2 separate regions of the Homo sapiens genome follow, and region 2 is reported to be linked to region 1. Evidence: microRNA targets listed by miRTarBase, many of them from high-throughput screens and not tested one by one. Region 1 holds a microRNA gene; the other region holds the end of a gene's coding sequence.
What was found. The annotated mature microRNA hsa-miR-6788-5p reads CUGGGAGAAGAGUGGUGAAGA and lies in region 1 at 2,081-2,101, shown strand. An mRNA with a match to its seed (bases 2 to 7 or 8) in the 3' UTR can be bound and repressed. Matches are read on the target gene's strand: a 7mer-m8 pairs with bases 2 to 8, a 7mer-A1 pairs with bases 2 to 7 and ends in A, and an 8mer does both.

Region 2: miRTarBase lists MRPL17 as a target of hsa-miR-6788-5p. Seed matches in the 3' UTR shown: 7mer-A1 at 1,617-1,623.

Annotation. Positions count from the first base shown.
Region 1 is chr18:10,758,725-10,761,724 of GRCh38, reverse strand. It overlaps MIR6788 (microRNA 6788), which reads left to right and starts at 2,076; the gene lies at 2,076-2,141. It overlaps PIEZO2 (piezo type mechanosensitive ion channel component 2), which reads left to right. Exons shown (of 56, transcript NM_001378183.1): 24 at 614-814; 25 at 1,816-2,020; 26 at 2,142-2,243.
Region 2 is chr11:6,679,288-6,682,287 of GRCh38, forward strand. MRPL17 (mitochondrial ribosomal protein L17) reads right to left here. Exons shown (of 3, transcript NM_022061.4): 3 at 1,098-3,000. The coding sequence ends at 2,831. Among named protein-coding and RNA genes, the nearest start is that of MRPL17, 2.6 kb to the right of the region's middle.

The sequences.
Region 1 (3,000 bases):
TACCCACCATAAATAGCTGTTATGAGGATAAAGCAAATTGGTATTTGAAAAGGGTGATCGAATTGTGTCTGGAACCTATGGTTCCATAAATGTTAACTATTTTCATTATCTTGAATAATAGTTATATCATCACTATTATTATTTTACTGTTGTCAGCATGCTTTTCAATCTATTGCTGTCTGTAGCCAGATTTCAGGAGTGTTCAAAAGCTTCCCCCTAAGCAGCTTCCCGTTCATTTAGCTCAGTGCGTCCCAGGATGTCTCTGTACTGTTTTTGCACTTCTGGCTGCAAACAAGGCTGAACTGCCCTCCTTGGATAACTGGAAATTGCTTCCTTGGTGTGAGATGTGTAGTTGTGAGAAGTAGGAATGAGCAGCAGCATCTTATGTTTGGAGATTCTAGATCCTATGACTTTGGAAGTTAGCCTGATTTTCTAATATAGATAATGCCACAATAAATAAGACAGAGAAAACGAATATTGAGCTCAAAACTGCTTAAGAGAGGTGAGCTTTTATAAAACATTGTCCTTGTAGCTGTGCAGAATGTGGGGATTGCTTGAAATTACCAAATCATAAAGCCTCTGGCTGACACATTTGTGTTTCCTTGCTTTGTAGAATAACCTCCTGATGCTGGCTATCCTGGCCTTTGAAGTCACCATTTACCGCCATCAGGAATACTATCGAGGTCGAAATAACCTGACGGCCCCTGTGTCTAGAACTATCTTTCATGACATTACAAGACTACATCTAGATGATGGACTTATTAATTGTGCCAAATATTTCATTAATTACTTCTTTTACAAGTTTGGTCTGGAGGTGAGTTTCCTTGCTGATATGTTTTATTTCTCTTTTCCATGAAAATTCAAAGAACTGCTTCTGGCCAATTGGCCACTGGAACTTTGTGATACATCTGCAGGCATGATAGCTGTCCCCTTGAGAAGAACAGAAAGTATTTGTACTGATGGTTAACTGGCTTGACTGAAAGTTTTCCAAGTTTGGGTGCTGAACACCCCCCTCCACAGCAGTGCCTTGGCCTCTCTGGATCTCCAGAGCCATCTAAATGCATGGCCATCAGTTGCCGTGTTAACAGGTTTCTTATTAAGAATAAAGTATTAATCTTCTGCCTGGGCACGGTGGCTCACGCCTGTAATCCCAGCACTTTGGGAGGCCAAGGCAGGCAGATCTTCTGAGGTCAGGACTTTGAGACCAGCCTGGGCAACATGGTGGAACCCCATCTCTTCTAAAAATACAAAAATTATCCAGGCGTGGTGGTGCACGCCTGTAATCACAGCTACTTGAGAGGCTGAGGCAGGAGAATTGCCTGAACCCAGGAGGCAGAGGTTGCAGTGAGCCAAGTTTGCACCACTGCACTCTAGCCTGGGTGACAGGGCAAGATTCCATCTCAAAATAAATAAATAATAAAGTATTAATCTTCTTTCTTTTTGTGCATTCTGAAACCATAAGCTGCAGCCAAAATGAACTGTTTTAACCTAAAACGATTGTGATAGTGCCTGTGCCTTCATAGAATGAAGTAGGAATGGTGATGTTTCATGAGGAGATCAAAATGGCTGTTCTCTTTATTGTCTGAAGTGGTTATGATAACAGCTACTTAGTCAGTTTTTCCCTGGGAGTAATCTGTACAGTATTTCTGTCTTCACGCTGAGACACTCAAAAGAGCAAGCATTTGTGAATCTGTGCAGACAGACTTGCCCTGAGGGACATGGGTCTCCGCCATCTACACAGACCTGACACCTATCACCAGTCCCCTTTCCCATATGCCTGATTTTTTTTTTTTGCCTCTTTTCATCTTTACACAGACCTGTTTCCTAATGTCAGTTAACGTCATTGGCCAGCGAATGGATTTCTATGCCATGATCCACGCCTGCTGGCTGATCGCTGTCTTATATAGACGCAGAAGGAAAGCCATCGCAGAGATCTGGCCCAAGTACTGCTGCTTCCTGGCATGCATCATCACCTTCCAGTATTTCATCTGCATTGGCATCCCACCTGCTCCTTGCCGAGGTGAGCCTGCCCTTCCCTTGAGCCGTCTACTTTTAGAAGAAGCCATTACTGAGCGGACGGCTGGGAGAAGAGTGGTGAAGAAGAGTATTGATTGTGCTGTTCGCCACTTCCCTCCCTGCAGATTACCCGTGGAGATTCAAGGGTGCCAGCTTCAATGACAACATCATAAAGTGGCTGTACTTCCCAGATTTCATTGTGCGGCCCAACCCTGTGTTTCTCGTCTGTAAGTGTTTCCACTGCAGGGCCACAGAGTGCTGGTATCCGGGTTTACTGTTAATCATTGTTCACGTGCTATGCATTAGTGCCTTTTGTCTTCCACTAGACTTCGTAATCATGTAAAGGCTTGTCTTATGCATTAATATCACAAGTCATTAATGGCTTCTACTCACCCTATTACATTTGCAAAATTAATAAATCAGTGTTGGAAATGCCATATTCACTTGCATAATTTCACTTCCCCCAACACACACACACAAACACACACACACACACACACACACATTTACACAGCCACCTTTCAAAAGACAGACCAGAGAGGAAGGCTTTTGTGTTTTCTGACTTGGTGGTTTCTGGCTCCCAGTGCAGATAAATAAACCCTGAACATGGGACAGTGGATGCTGGGAGATGCTTCCCAGATTTTAGTTGCTCTAGAATTGGGCTGCAGCCCCAAGGCCTTCCCATGGCAGCTGGTGATCCAAAGGTCAGAGCAGCTCCTCCAAGACCAGAGTGCTGGGTTTTACAGAAAATGCAAATGACTGCCCTGCCTAAACAAGTTTAGGTTTAATTTTAAAAGCAAGGAAGCAGCTTGTGTTCAGGCTTCCAGGCAGGCTTGGCCTCAGCCCTTTGTGGGCAGTTGCTGGGAGGACAGCTCTCTCAGGCTGCGCTGTGCTGTCCAGCACAGTCCACCACCTCCACCTGCTCTCACCACACTTGCAGTGTGGCTTCTGCTTTGGGGACAGTCTTTGGTTACAAATGCAAAG
Region 2 (3,000 bases), not on the chromosome of region 1:
TGGGCGGGGAGCCACCTAGGTGATACCAAAAGTTTGTGTGTAAGTTACATAGGTAAAAGAGAGAAGGCTGTCTGCACGGCAGGGACTGCTTTAACAAAAGGTTGTGGACAGGGGAGCTGTGCACAGGGAAACATCCAAAATAGGAACTTTTATGCTTCTAGAGCATAGCATTTAGAGGCAAAGGAAGTAGTTGGAGTGATGAGTAGATGCCTGAACAAGGAGGGGAGTCATGATAAGGATCCCATAGGAAATAAGCAACTGGAGATCATCACCAGGGAATTAAGATGATCAGATTCCCGTCAGTACAGCCAAAGTGTAGAGGGAGGTAAGTTAGGAGGTTGTTGAAGTAACCCAGGATAGAGGTATCTTGGATTTCTTACTAGGGAGCAAGTTGACTGCAGATTTGAGAAACATTACGGAAATAAACATGACTTGTTAATTTCAGTGTCAATGAGGGTAAGGAAATAATCTCTGACTTTTCTAGTCATCTCCCCAAGATATCAGGCTTACAGTGTATTAACTGTAAAGCCTAAACTTGTTACCTTTTGAGAAAGGAGTGATCATTACTTTGTCTACCTTACTGTAAAGAACTGGCGCCCAAGACGGTGGGAACCTTTGAGAGTGGTGCTCTTGGGTTTGGAACGCATTAAAGAGGTGCCTAGATGGACTTGGGGGGAGCAGTCCACTAGTTGAAGAAGTTATTTATAAGCCAGATTAGTAAAATTCTTTTTTTTTGAGACAGAGTCTCGCTCTGTTGCCCAGGCTGGAGTGCAGTGGCACAATCTCAGCTCACTGCAAGCTCCGCCTCCCAGGTTCACGCCATTCTCCTGCCTCAGCCTCCTGAGTAGCTGGGACTATAGGTGCCCGCAACCACGCCCAGCTAACTTTTTGTATTTTTAGTGGAGACGGGGTTTCACCGTGTTAGCCAGGATGGTCTTGATCTCCTGACCTTATGATCTGCCTGCCTTGGCCTCCCAAAGTGTGGGGATTACAGGCGTGAGCCACCGCACCCGGCAGTAAAATTCTTGATGCTGTTACTTTCCTTGTGTTATCCCTGAGCCTTTAGCAAATGTTTTAGGATTCATGTACTTTTATTTGGACCAAAACATTAAAGGGGAAGCAGTGTCCCTTGAGGCCACTGTGGTAGTGGCAGTGGCCTGTTATTGTGAGCTCATTGATGGTACAGGTTGTTTCTTATCTCTAGTCTCTATTAGATGAACAGTGGATATTGTATCCCTTCTGCCTAAATTGATGCTGGGAACTAGCAGATGCTCAAAAAGCATGTAGGGAACTGTTGGAAGTCCCAAAGGGAGATATATTTCTGGGGTCTAAGAGGAAAAGCTACAGGAGCCCAGCCACAATCCATCTATTTAAAATAAAGATGTGGTTTTAAGGAAAGTGGTTTCTCTAGAAGTTAGGTATGACTCCTAGATACCTAGCTAGGGTGGATATTCATGCTAAGACAGAAGAGGGGTATATTTTTTAGCAGAAGCAGAGTTGTAGCTTTATTTCATAAATGTTTTGAGTGTCTACTATATTTCATTTAAAATATAAGAGCTTTCTGGCTATAGTGTGAAGAACAAACCATAGTAGAGAAAAAGAGATAAAGAGCTCTGTTGGGAGTAGATGAGTATCAGACTAAGGCAGCTACAGCTAAATTAGCACCAGAATAGTTCGTTCTGTCACTGAAGCCATGTCTGCTACACCAGTGATCCCTTTACCCTTACTCTTACTTATTATCTCAGACAGTGGATGGGTTCAGTGGGCCAAATACACTCAGAAGATAGAGCCTAAGATAAAATCTCTTCTACCCACTTTACTGGGGATATGGCAATTATCAGGCACTGCTATCAAGTGTTTGGACCAAGACTGATGGCTCCTTTCTAAGTCCTTCCATAACTACTACCCTACTAAAGCCTCTGAACCCAAGGGAACGGCAGCCTGGCTGTGCCAAGAAAGGGGCTCCCAGCTTCTCACATTCTGAAGCCGGATTTCCCTTTTCTGGGTTCCCAGAGAGGCCAGATTTGACAACAATAAAAACTTCCAGGAAATTCCTAGGAGGTTTAATTTCCTAATCCTTCTCTCGCATAGACCCTCTTTCTTACCCCTTCCCCTCACCAAGAGGAAGGAGCTTATCCTGGAGCCCAACATCCTCTGCTGAATGTCTCCACCCCTTTGGCCAAACTGGTGGAACATCTGAGTTCTTGGGTCCTCTCCTCCCAGGCCCATTCAGGGGGTTGAAGGGAACACATTAAGGTAATGTGTGATCCTGCCTCAAAACAGAGGACTGATTGCAGTATCCCCTGAAGGTTCGCAGGGTACTAGATTGTTTAAGGAAGTTTCACTTGCAGATTGTCACTCCCCTACCCCTGTCAGGAAGTAATCTTTCTCTAAGAAATCCCAAGCACTCATCTCTAGGAGACCAGATGTCAAAACACAACCACCTCTGGCAACATTTGGAATTATAGGATGCATTCCCATGTAAACTGGCATTAAGAAAAACAAAATTGCACTAACCAAAAATAACCCAAATTTAAGGACCAGAAGCATAAGCCATGAATTTACTATCTCAGGTAGACTGAGCATTTGGATAATTCTCATTCTCCAGAAATCCCACAGGAAGGAAAAAATAAATAAATTTATATATATTCATATAAAGACTTTTATCTATTGTGCAAAGAGAGGGTCATCTGGCTCCCCAGAAGGTTCTCAACCCCATCAAGACTGTCCATTTTACATCTCTAGCTCCAGTTCTTCTCAGAGAGTAAAAGTGCTCCAAAGGCCTGTGATCATGGGTACTGATTAAGGGCTGCAGACTCTTCAGATCCAGTTAAATCCCTGGTGTTTGAGCTGTGTGGGAGCTGTGGTTGCTTGCTTCCTGGCTTTGCCTGAGGTCCTGCCGCAAACCCTGCAGCAGCTGGTTTAGGAGTGTAAGGTGGCTGTCTCTGCGAGGCAGAGGCAGGGGTGGGAGGCAATTCCCTTTATACTCGATCACTGCCA